Regions from separate parts of the Homo sapiens genome. Here all the other regions are linked to region 1. The links come from fine-mapping of genetic effects on gene expression. A gene starts in region 1. Each other region holds a variant in brackets. All regions are shown on one strand. Distances are from middle to middle.

The links. PIP is the estimated chance that this variant, and not a neighbour inherited with it, causes the effect. A credible set is the group of variants that fine-mapping cannot tell apart.
Region 2: its variant is the best candidate, but not a certain one, in a credible set for the expression of MRPL35 in skin (TwinsUK, PIP 0.85).
Region 3: its variant is the best candidate, but not a certain one, in a credible set for the expression of MRPL35 in whole blood (INTERVAL, PIP 0.73).

Annotation. Positions count from the first base shown.
Region 1 is chr2:86,197,708-86,201,909 of GRCh38, reverse strand. MRPL35 (mitochondrial ribosomal protein L35) reads right to left here and starts at 2,453. Exons shown (of 4, transcript NM_016622.4): 1 at 2,377-2,453. The coding sequence starts at 2,419. RefSeq lists an enhancer at 2,365-2,634.
Region 2 is chr2:85,810,938-85,815,162 of GRCh38, reverse strand. It overlaps LOC284950 (a long non-coding RNA gene), which reads right to left and starts at 33. Exons shown (of 3, transcript NR_038888.1): 1 at 1-33. The variant G/A (reference allele first, on the strand shown) is at 2,286.
Region 3 is chr2:86,229,048-86,233,272 of GRCh38, reverse strand. It overlaps REEP1 (receptor accessory protein 1), which reads left to right. Exons shown (of 9, transcript NM_001371279.1): 6 at 471-648. Among named protein-coding and RNA genes, the nearest start is that of MRPL35, 32 kb to the right of the region's middle. RefSeq lists an enhancer at 1,903-2,561. The variant A/G (reference allele first, on the strand shown) is at 2,479.

The DNA.
Region 1 (4,202 bases):
ACAAAGGTGACGATGTACATTTGGGGAATTACAATGGCCCTATGTGGCATGAATCAAAGGAATGAATGGGGGACATGAACTGCACTGGATGGGAGTGGAGGAGACTGTGACAGTATCGAAACCAGGAGTCTTCAAGATTTCTGATCCTATGTTTCCTAAAAGAATTTTGAAAAACTACCCTTTCACAAATTCTTAATATCTAAAATATCAAATAGTTTAAATTGTTAAAAAGGCTATAATTTCCAGCATATTTAAAATACTGACATTTTAAAATAAGCTGTCACATCACTCTTTAAATTGTTTTCAGTAGAATCTAAATTAATAGTAAGTTGATAACTACCTACATCATCTATTTAAAAATTACAAGAACTATAAATTCAAGTAGATGAAAAACAACTTTTCGTCAAAGGGCACTCCAAAATAATGTAAAAAAGACAAGCCTGAGTGGGAGAAGCTAAAGGACACACACAAATGAAAAACAAAAACAAAACAAAAAATACTCTAAATAAATAAGACAAACAATCCAATAGGAAAATGGGCAAAATATTTAAGTGGATATTTCATAAAGGAAATTCAAAAGGCCAATAAAAATGTGAAACACACTATAGCTTGTTATTAATCAGAGAAATGCTTATTTAAATCTCAATGAGATACCATTACAAAGCCACCAGATTAACAAAAATTTGTAGGTCTGACAATATCTATTGACAATATCAATATCAGGTGTTGGTGAGGATGTGGGGCCTCAACAGTTTGGCAATATCAGGCAATGCTGAATATATACATATTCTCTGACCAGGCAATTCCACAGCGATTTTCACACATACCCACATCCTCAGAAACAATTGGACTCATGCGCCAGGATGAGATCAATCAGCTTTGTACATAATTGCCCCAAACTGGAAATGGAGAATTGTGGCACAGTCATATAATATTATACAGCAGGCCGGGCAGGGTGGCTCACACCCGTAATCCCAGCACTTTGGGAGGTCGAGGCGGGCGGATCACCTGAGGTCAGGAGTTCCAGACTAGCCTGACCAACATGGAGAAACCCCAACTCTACTAAAAATACAAAATTAGCTGGGCGTGGTGGCGCATGCCTGTAATCCCAGCTACTCCAAGGGAATCACTTAAACCTGGGAGGAGGAGGTTGCAGTGAGCCCAGATCGTGCCATTGCACTCCAGCCTGGGCAACAAGAGAGAAACTCCGTCTCAAAAAAAAAAAAAGAATTATATAGCAATGAGAAAGCATTACAGCTACGCAAAATGAATGAATGAATCTCACAATGTAAAAGAAGATACTAAAGCGTATATACTGTATGAACCAATTCATGTGAAGTTCAAAACCAGGCAAAACTATGTTCTTGAGATGCACATATGGATGCTAAAACTACTATAGGAAAAATAGGCAACCTAATAGTAACTATAAAAATGAGAACAGTGTTTATATCTGGGGGGGAAGTAGAGAATTTTGATACATAGGGGAGAGGAGGCTTCTGGTAGTGCACTGTTTTGACCTGAGTGTTAAACAGGTGTTTGCTTTAGAACTGTTAAATCATTCATGCATACTATATAAAATTTTCTTCATATGTATTATATTTCGCGAACACAAAAAATACTCCACATAAAAAAAGCTTTTCTCTAACGGTAAAATTTACATCGCTGCATTTTCTTGACTGATCTCGTATATTCTCCCACAAAATGTTATCCTAACAATATATTTTGTGTGAAAGTAACTTACTGAGCATCCTATGGTATTTGGATGATTTTTAACTTTTTGCAAAAAGTACTTAACGTCACGGCAACTTAATTTAGTCGCCTTTACTTCTGCTATCTCTCAGTCAAGAAGTCCTCATACCAGCCCTTGTGCCGGGGGCTGTAGTTAAAAATTAAATTAGCCTTCAAGCTTACCATGTGTCAGGCACTGCCCAAAACGCTTTACGTGCATTATCTCATTTAATCCCCAGGTAGGTGGTTATGACCCCCATTTTAGAGGTGTAGAATCTTAAGTTAGGAGACATTAATTCTCAAGGTTAAAGGTCGTGAATGGCAGGTCGTAGCCTCTAAATCAGAAAGTTAGGTGAGACTTTTTGGTTTCCCTCGCCCCCTCCGTTCCAGTTTCTCTGGCTTCTTTTCTAGGGAAAAAAAGCTGGTAAGGAAGCGGCAAATGCGTGACACACAGGCCCGCGTGAGTCCGAGTCGGGGGACTTGGTACGGGCTGCCGGTCACACCGCCCCAGAGAAAATTGGGCGCAACCTTCTTAACTTAAATAATGACCCTTTTTGCTTGTTAACCTCCAGTCTAAACGCCCATTCCATCCCGCACCAGTTTCCCCTTCTGTGAAGGCATGCATGGAGTATGTCGCTCTCCACTGACCTGAAGCTGCTCTCACTGCACCAGCAAAGGCAGAGGCAGCCATCTTCACCTTCGCCTACGGCGGCCGCTTTGGGTTTAAAAGCACAAGAGCAAAAGAGAATGAAGGGAAAGCAAGGAGGCGGAGTCAAGGAAGAGGAAAAGAACAAAGTTGTCCACTCAACATTTATTCAATGTCATCTGCCGGGTTCCGTTCTTCGCCGCTGTAAAACGACTGCCTATAGAAGGTTCTACAAAATTTCTTATTAAAAAAAATTCTTGGGGCCGGGCACGGTGGCTCACGCCTGTAATCCCAGCACTTTGGGAGGCCGCGGCGGGCGGATCACAAGGTCAGGAGTTCGAGACCAGCCTGGCCAACATGATGAAACCCCCGTCTGTACTAAAAATACAAAAAGTAGCCGGGCTTGGGAGGCTGAGGCAGGAGAATCGCTTGAAACCGGAAGGCGGAGGTTGCAGTGAGCAGAGATCGTGCCACTGAACTCCAGTCTGGGCGAAAGAGCGAAACTCCATCTCAAAAAAAAAAAAAAAATTCTTGCCGGGCGCGGTGGCTCACGCCTGTAATCCCAGCACTTTGGGCGGCCGAGGCGGGCAGATCACGAGGTCAGGAGATTGAGACCATCCTGGCTAACAGGGTGAAACCCCGTCTCTACTAAGGGGTACAAAAAATTAGCCGGGCGTGGTGGCGCGCGCCTGTAGTTCCAGCTATTCGGGAGGCTGAGGCAGGAGAATCGCTTGAACTTGGGAGGCGGTTGTTGCAGCAAGCCAAGATTGAGCCACCGCACTCCAGCCTGGGGTACAGAGCAAGATATAGGGTGTATTACCTTGGAACACTATTGTTGCCAACTTGATCTCCCACCTATGGTGGCCACTTTGAGTCCAAAAACAGGCACATACGCTAGACAAGTATATTGAAACATTCATAAAAGCTCTTTGAATTGGCAACGGGAGTCATTGCGCACTTTTTTTTTTTTTTGAGACTAGGTCTTGGTCTGTTGCGAAGGCTTGAGTGCAGTGGTGCGATCACAGCTCACTGCAGCCTCGACCTCCTAGGCTCAAGCAATCCTCCCACCTAAGCCTCCTGAGTAGCTGAGACTACAGGCACACACCTGGCTAATTTTTAAATTTTTTGTAGAGACCTAGGTCTCACTATGTTGCCCAGGGTGGTCTCAATTATTTGGTATGGAATCAAACAGGTCTCCCACCTTGGCCTCCCAAAGTGCTGGGATTACAGGTGTGAGCCACTGAGCCTGGCCTCACTGCACATTTTTGAACAAGTGAGTGACTTGATTTAAATTTTGTTTTTTAGAGACAGGGTCTGAGTGCAGTGGTGCAATCACTGCAGCCTGGAATTCCTGAGCTCAAGGGATCCTCCCACCACAGCCTTCCAAGTAGCTGGCACCACAGGCATGCACAATCATCCCCTGCTAATTTAAAAAAATTGTTTATAGAGATGAGGTTTCACTTTTTTTTTTTTTTTTTTTTTTTTTTTTTTTTTTGGAGACAGACTCTCGCTCTGTTGCCCAGGCTGGAGTGCAGTGGTGCGATCTTGGCTCTCTGCAAGCTCCGCCTCCCGGGTTCACACCATTCTCCGCCTCAGCCTCCCAAGTAGCTGGGACTACAGGTGCCTGCCACCACACCCAGCTAATTTTTTGTATTATTATTATTTTTTTTAGTAGAGACGGGGTTTCACCGTGTTAGCCAGGATGGTCTCGATCTCCCGACCTCATGATCCGCCCGCCTCGGCCTCCCAAAGTGCTGGGAGAGGTCTCACTCTTTTGCTCAGGCAGGTCTCAAACTCCTGGGCTCAAGTGATCCTCCCACCTCAGTCT
Region 2 (4,225 bases), 390 kb after region 1:
CCTGCTTTTATTTTCTAGGATCTGGAGCAATTTAAGGGGATTAGGCTGCGGGTTGGGGAGGGGAGGAAAAGGTTTGAGAAAGGTTTTGAGAGAACTCCATGGCTGGGAGCAGCAGTACCTGCTGAGGTGGGGGCGGGGGAGCAAGACCTCAGATGGCATAGCCAAGCTGTAGGGGGCCTCAGGGGAGCGAGTGGCATGGCCTCAGGCCCAGGCTGCCAAACTGGGCAAGGAGGCAGCACAGACCCCCTGAGGCTTGGACACGAAGCTCTCACAGTGGTGCTGACGCACTGAAGATTTAAACACTACTCCCTCACACCCATTTTCTGGCATCACCTTAGACTCCCTGGCTCTTGCACAGGCCTAGGGAGGAGCAGCACCCACTCCCATCTCCAAAAGCAAGTCAGAATGAAGTTTTCTGCAGCCCAGCCAGAGGCGGAGTCAGATCTAATTTGATTTTAATAGAATAAAGAAGGGTACTGTTTCCAGCATCCCTGAGTCCTGTTATATTTTGCATAAAATGATTCAGTCTGGGGTAGAAGGAAGGGCATTGCAGGATGAGTCTGGCTCTGCCATTTAATAGCTACGGGACCCTGAGCAACTTTCTACACTCCTCCTAGCCTGTCTTCTCATTTGTAAAATGGGAATGAGTTTCCCATCTACCGGGGTCCCTCCTGCTCCTGAGCCCTGGCTGCTTGAAGTGGAGGTTCTGCTCATGCCAGGTGTGAGGATCACCCTCCTCCTGTACCATCGATGCCAGCCCAGCCTGGACAGCAGAGGGCGCTGTCACGCCATGCAGACTGTTCCTGTTCCAAGTCCACCAGCTCTCCCGGCTGTACCCAGCAGCTGATGGTGGCCAGTGTGCATTCTCCCTTATTCACTGGAGCAGTCCAGATGCCCTGACCCTCGATCTGCCAATTTTTAGACACAAGTAACACGCCCCCAAGTTCTCTGGCCCCCTTAGGCTCCTTACTCGTGATCCTCAGCTGCCTTGGCACTGCGCCCTTCTGGAAGCCCCTGGGGTGGCTCACGTGTGGTCCCAAACCAGTCTGCACCCATAGGGCACCACTGCAGCTCTGCCAGATGTCTGGGGTATCCCACATGGCACCCCAGACTCCCAGCAGCCTCCACCTGTATATGCATCCCTCCCCCAAGCGTCAAAGGTGTGAAGTGGTTGGGGCCAGGAATACCCCCACTCTAAGGGGTGGGGAGACTCAACTACGAGTCCTGCAGAGGCCAGACCAGGGGACGCCAGCCTTTCCATCATCAATTCCTCCCTTCTTACTGCTGGGCCAGCTCACTGGGTCATCCTGTCACCCCTCAAGTCTAGCTCCCCACCACAACTGTGACTCCCACTTAAACCAACACTTCAGCTCCCACAGTGTTCCAGGTGCTCTCATACCTCTCCTGTCTCTCAATCCCAAAGTAAAATATACATGATTACCACCATGGGGGAACTGAGGCTCACAGGAATGTTAAGTGATTTGTCCAAGACCTCATGGAACTGCAGTATCAGGACCCACACCCAGATCTCTGGATTCCAAGGGCCATGTTATTTCCATGACACTGTCGTGCCTCTTGGGTGTGGGCACTGGGGGTTTGGGCTGTTTGGGGGAAGTGGGATGGCAGCTCTAGCTGCCCAGCAGAGGTCTGGGAGATCCACTATGTGGTCTCAGGCCTGGCATGGCCCACACTGAGGTTGGCATCATGTGGCTCATGGGCAGGCCTGGAGCCCCTCTGATCCCAGAATGGAAACCCTTTGCAGGCTGCTGGTATAGGGAAGCCCAGCCAGGAGCTCACACACCTGCCGTTACCTGAGGTTTCTGCCATTACCTGAGACAGCATGGGCTCCTGGGAGGCCCTGATGACAGAACAATTAAGGGGGTTGTAGGGGGAAGGGTGGGCAGAGGAGTTACACCCCCACGTGCTTGGCAGCAGACGTCAGGAACACGGGGTGATGCCCACATTGTCTCCTGCCTCCTTATACAAACTGTCTGGGGCTTCTCTTTTTCCTTCATACAAGTCACCAGTGAGGACAATGTCACCAATCACCCAATATTTACCACCAATGAAAATTCGTTTCCACAAATGGGAGACCCTGCTCTGCACAAGAGACTAGACCAGACCTGTAGGGTTTGGGGGATTTTTTGTTTTTGTTTTTTGAGATGGAGGCTTGCTCTGTTGCCCAGGCTGGAGTGCAATGGCATGACCTCGGCTCACTGCAACCTCCGCCTCCCAGTTCAAGCAATTCTCATGCTTCAGCCTCCTGAGTAGCTGGGACTACCGGC[G/A]CATGCCACCATGCCTGGCTAATTTTTGTATTTTTAGTAGAGACGGGGTTTCACCATGTTGGCCATGATGGTCTCGAACTCCTGACCTCAGGTGATCCACCCTCCTCAGCCTCCCAAAGTGCTGGGATTACAGGCATGAGCCACTACGTCTGGCCTCAGATCTGTAGGGTTTTGACGAGTGACCAGAATGAGGGAAACAAACATATCACAGACCAGCGTGGCCCAAGTCGAAGGAAGGGAGGCTGAAGGCACTGGTTGGGGGTGGAAGTGTTGCAGCTCAGAGGAGAAGCCAGCCCCACCGGAGGGGTGGCCAGTGAGTGGCCTGATGCACAGGCAGGCAGCCAGCGAGCTTGGGGGTGGGGGAGAGGCTGAGCCAAGGCCGAGAGGTAGGAGGGGGCAGCTCGGGCTCTTGGTGGGCCAAGGTGGGAAGTGCTTGAGGGCACTTGGCAGAGCTGGAACTGGGACAGTGGGATGAGGCCCAGGTGTGGGGGGCTCGGTGCCAGGCTGAGGATGCCATGGACACACAGCTCATCAGCAGCTCTGGCCACCACCAGCTCCTCCTCTGTTACAGTTCAGAGTGTGGCAAATCATCTGCACTATGAAAATGATGGCCTGGGTTCAACTGTTCATTTGTTCAGTTGACTGGCCGGCCAGTCACCAGCTTTGTGACCTTGGGTAGGTCAATGAATTGACCTAGTTTCTGCCCTTAAAATGGGGTTACAGTATTATCCCATGGGGCTGCTGTGAGGATTAAATGAATTGATTTGTAGGCAGCACTTAGCATGTGCCAGGCTCAACATGATGCTATCACTATTAATCCATATAAATACTAACAGCTACCACTTAGGGAGCACCTACTATGTGCCAGGCTCTGAGCTAGTTCCCCACCTACATCATGTCTTTAACCTCCAAGGTAACTTACCATGATCACGCCCATTTTACAGATGAGGAAATAGAGGCCCTTGCCCACAGTACAGTCATAGTGCTGCCAAGTGGGGAGCCGGGTTCCCACCCAGGCCTGCCTAACTCCCAAGCCCAGGCTCTGAGGATCCAGCATCCGACAGCTGCATCTTTCTGCAGGGGAAGGGGCCTGGGCCATGCAGAGTGTGTGGTTTATGGACCACAGGGATTTCTGAACCCAACTTTGGGCGCATGTGTGCCTGGCACGTGGGGGCAGGAGAAAAGCTTAGTTCCTCCCGCCGAGCCTCAGCTCACACACTCCGCAGACCCTCCTGCGCCCACACCCAGGAATCTTGGTTTTAGGCGACACATCGTGATGCCTGCTAAAAGCAGAGCAGGGAAAAGGAGCCCTTAAACAGTCCAAATGTGTCCCTCGCCGCGCCTGATTTTCCCAGAGCCCCGGCGCGCCCAGACAGAAGTTGTGTACACAGGATTTTAGTATTTCCTCTCCGGCTCCAGCCCCAATTTGAGGGCCTGTAAAAGCTTGAATGGCGTCCAGTGCGGCGTGGTTTGCCTAAGCTCGGCTCCCGGCGCTGAGTCAAAGCAGCCCACACAGGGACCGGGGCGCCTGCTAGGGGGGTGGGGGGCGCCTGCGGGGGCGGGGGGAGGCCGGGGGCGCCCACACCCACGTCCAGGCCCAGCCGCCGCCTTCCAGCCGCCGGGGCTGGCCCTGCTGCGGCTGAGCAAACCTGGTGACTCGGGGTACACTCGTGGCGGGAGGCAAGGACGTGGTTGCATGACCCCTTTCCTCCCCCTGCGCCTGGGAACCTCTCCCACTTCATTGGGGTGGGGGCGGGGGGTGCTCCGTGTGGCTCAGAGGCTGCTTCAGATGTCTTCTCTGAGGCTGAGAGGCTCTTCCAGTCCCTGATTTTTAAACATGCCTCCAGCACCCCTCTCCCTGCCAGGAATCATCCAGTACAGTGCCCAGACTGACCTGCTGTGTGAGTCTAGGTAATTCACTCACTCTCTCTGGGTCTCAG
Region 3 (4,225 bases), 31 kb before region 1:
GAAAATAATAAGAACCAAGCACATAGAATATTAGGTTTTGATTGCCTGACCAGATTCTCATGTACTGAGAAAAATGGAGATACATGTGGATTTTTATTTATGCAAAGCAAGAGAAGCAGCAGGTGGCCTGGAAGGAGTAGGAGCTGCAGGCAGTAGTCACGCCCTTGGCCCTGGGTCTGTCTGAGGCTCCGGATCATCATCGTATCATCGTATCATCATAGTGGTGTCTGAGGGTAGGGAGGGATCCTGGAGCCAAAGGAGCAATTACTGAGCCCCAGAGGAGGCCCTGGAAAATTCCGGGATTTGACCCTCTCTGTGTTTCCAGCAGCTATGTCTGGGCACCTGCGCCTCAGAGTTGATCCAGGTCTTGATTTCCACCTGGCTGACCATCAGAGCTCCCTCTTGGCCTTTGTCGAGTGTGACCTGTGGAGCAGGACCTCTGACGTGTGCCCCTCCTGTGTTGTATCCAGGGACAGGGTGCCTTATCGGAGAGACTGCGGAGCTTCAGCATGCAGGACCTCACCACCATCAGGGGAGACGGCGCCCCTGCTCCCTCGGGCCCCCCACCACCGGGGTCTGGGCGGGCCAGCGGCAAACACGGCCAGCCTAAGATGTCCAGGAGTGCTTCTGAGAGCGCTAGCAGCTCAGGTAGGTGTCACTTTACTTCCCCTCTTTCCCACTCCTTGGGCCTCGCTTTCATTGAGAGAGGCCCAGTCCGCAGTGTGGCATGCAGCCTGGCCCTGGCCCCACGGACCTGCCACCAACGGGGTGTCCATCAGATCATGCCAGGTCAGCCAAGGGGCGGAGCACCCCTCAGGCCCGGCCAGGAAACCAGCCTGGTGACTGATCAGGGACAGGGCTAGGTCACCTGCACCAAAGGGTCCCCTTTCCTCCATATGATTGTCTGGGGAATTGGGGGTAGTTGGGGGCTAGTGTCTAGGCAAAGCCTGGAGGCAGCAGGCACAACTGGACCTGGGCCCCGGGAGCCTTCTGTGTTGTCTTCTCAGACTCCGGGGAGGCATACCTGTTGATACCTAAGTGTTGTCTTCTCACCCGGGGCTTACTGCTCTCACGGGCCCTCTTCCCTGCCTGAATATTGCCTGTCCTCTCTCTCACTCTGCTGTCTCCTTCTCATCTCTGACCTCTCATGTACCTCACACCACCCCCAGCCTCTGCATACCAAGGGCCATGCTAGCTCTGAGTTCTTGTTCCTGTGGTGACCAGGACCTTACAGTAACCACACCTCTGCCTCCAATGTCTGACTCTGGTGTCACACGCCCATCGTGGGATTGCTGGTATTGGGACTGACCTGGGGACCTCGTTAAACATGCAAAGTCCTGGGCCCATCCGCAGAGGCTTCAGTAGGTCTGGGGTGAGACCCAGAAGTGTGATTTTCATTGAGATGCAGCCGTGTTTGGGACCCCCCGACATCGGATCCACCAGCACGGGTTTCAGGCTCATGGAGGGTGGGGGCACACAGTTTCCCAGGCTGCTCCTTGGGAGGATGCCAGGGGCCTTGGGTCTCAGGGGCTGAGCACAGCAGCTGCCCAGGACTGATGGTGGGGGGGTGGGGGACGGTTCTGGATCACCACTTCTGCCTCGCTGTGGTGAGAAGGGTGGGAATCTATGTCCACAATGTCTGTCTGGTGACTGCGTGGCCCTTAAATCTATAAACAGAGATGTCTGGCCACCTGTGACTATGCAGCCTGCAGGGGACACCTTGGCCATAAGCCCCATGTCCTGACAGACCCCATCTGATGCCCGGGGGTCTTAGCCATCAACAGGAAGGCATGAGGCCTGCGGCTGCCTGGGAATGGCAACTCATGCTCAGAGCCAAGTGCAGCTCAGGGCTCCGTCCATTTCCTCCCTCTCAGCAGTGTCCCCTTGGCCCTTCGCAGGTCTTAAGACTGTGGCTTTTCTGTTGGGAGATGTTTTAACCCTGTCACTGCTGGAAGCAGGGCAGGGTTGGGGAGGTGGAGGCTCGGCTGTGGGGGTGATGGCCACCTCAGGGAGGGGTTACCCCCCGAGGGACCCCCCCCCAGGAATGGAATCCCAAAAGGCCAGACAGGAAATGACCTCAGGGATCTTTCAGTCAAACCCAGTGATTTTACTGGTGAAGAGACAGAGGTCCAGAGAAGGGGACTGTGCAGGGTCACCCATGCTGGGCTGCAGTAGAGCGTGGCCTTCTGACTCCGGGGCCAGTGCCCATGGTCACTCACTCATCAACCATCCAGGCTTTGTCAAGCATCTACAGCTTCTGATCTGCCGGACACTGCCCCAGAAATAGGGATACAAAACAGAGTTAAGTCTCATCTCCACACTGCATCAGCTCATCATCTACCAAGCCTCAGATGAAAGCTGCCCCTTAGATGGAAAAGGGGCCTCAATTCAGTAAAACCCAGAGGGCAGAGAGCAAGAACCAGTGGGGTGAAGTTCGAAGGGGGTAGCCACTTGCTCGCCGCATGACCCGGGCGAGCT[A/G]TTTACCATCTCTGCACCCTAGATTTCTTATCTACACAAGGAATGACACCCCTTTGTAGAGTTGTTGTGAGGCTTCAAATGAAACCAGCCATGTGAAAGTGCTTATGGCCATGCCTGGCGCCAGTGCATAGTAGCTGTTATCATTGTTCTTTTTGTAATTTGTCTCTCCTGAGAAGGCGCATTGTCATGCTGCAAGTGTCCAGGAGCAAAATGGGCCATCTTGGGAGGTAGTGAGGTCCCTGACATTGGAAGGACACAAGCCAAAGCTGGATGGTCAGGTTCGAGGGAGGGATTCCTGCTTTGGCTAGGAAGCGGGCTTAGGTGGCCCTGGCGTCCCTTTGCCTCTAAGAGTCTGTGTTGCCATTTTAGAGGTGAGCCCAGTGGAGGAAGCAGGCTCAGAGAGGTTGTGCACTGGGCTGAGGCCCCCAGGCCCAGAATCCAGGCCTCCTGCCTAGACCTCCCCTGGTGAATTATTCAGGGCAGCCTCAGAACTGGGAATGCAAGAAGCTGGCAGGGTCTGCAGGGAGATGGCAGTGTCTTCTGGGCCTGGAGTATCTTCCCAGCCCAGCATCAGGTAGAAAAGCATTTGGGATGATTTGCTTTGGCACTGGCTCTGCCACTCTCCATGAGCAGAGGTGATGACGTCCCCTGCCATGCCCCAGGGAGGCAGTGGGGAGTGTTCTGGCTGTCCCAGGCTGAGAGGACCAGCTGTGCTGCATTATGCCCCAGCCCTCCTCACTGCTGGCCCCCTTGGCCTCCGCACCTATGACCACAGGGGGCAAAGAGGAAAGGTGCAACCCAGCAGGGAGGCCAAGGACAGTGTAGTGCTCTTTCCAGCTGTTCTGGAGCCTAAAATAAAAGCCATCTCAAAAAGGAAGACAGGAGCTGGGTGTAGTGGTTCACGCCTGTAATCCCAGCACTTTGGGAGGCTGAGGAGGGTGGATCACCAGAGGTCGGGAGTTCAAGACCAGCCTGACCAACATGGAGAAACCCCGTCTCTACTAAAAACACAAAATTAGCCAGGCGTGGTGGTGCATGCCTGTAATCCCAGCTACTCATGGAGTAGCTGAGGCAGGAGAATCGCTTGAATCGGGGAGGCGGAGGTTGCAGTGAGATGAGATTGCACCATTGCACTCCAGTCTGGGCAACAAGAGTGAAACTCCATCTTTAAAAAAAAAAAAAAAAAAAAAAAAAAAGGAAGACAGGTGAAAGATGGCCTGGGGCGTGGATATGGGGCAGAATTTCCTGGGTCAGAGGCTCTTGGGCTATCATACCCTGAAGTAAGGTCAACATGCCTAGGAGGAAGTCTGGCAGAGGAAGCCAATTTATACCGGGCTGGTGTACTCTCCCCAGCTCAGCCCCCAGTGTGGGCCTCAGATGCCAGGCCAGATCAGGTAGCAGAAAGGGCCCCAGAAAAGGGGAAGAGGCTAGACTTCATCCTGGCTGGGTGATGCCGGGCCTGTGCAGACACAGCAAATGCAGCACAGCAAGGCATGCTCCTTCCTCCTGAGCCTCAATTCAGCCTCAGAACTTCTCTCAGAACAACCCAGGCAGTCGCTACCATAGATTTGGCCTTGGCACAGAGGACAGACCTGATTCCCTCAGGCTTTCTTCTTTGTAAAAAAGACCGAATAGTCCCTATTCAGCCTATGTCTTAGGGTTGTGAGGAGAGCAAACCAGAGAATTTGCAAACCCTGGACAGGTGGCAGGGGTTGAAGACAACCTGGAGAGAGGTGGGAGCTGCACC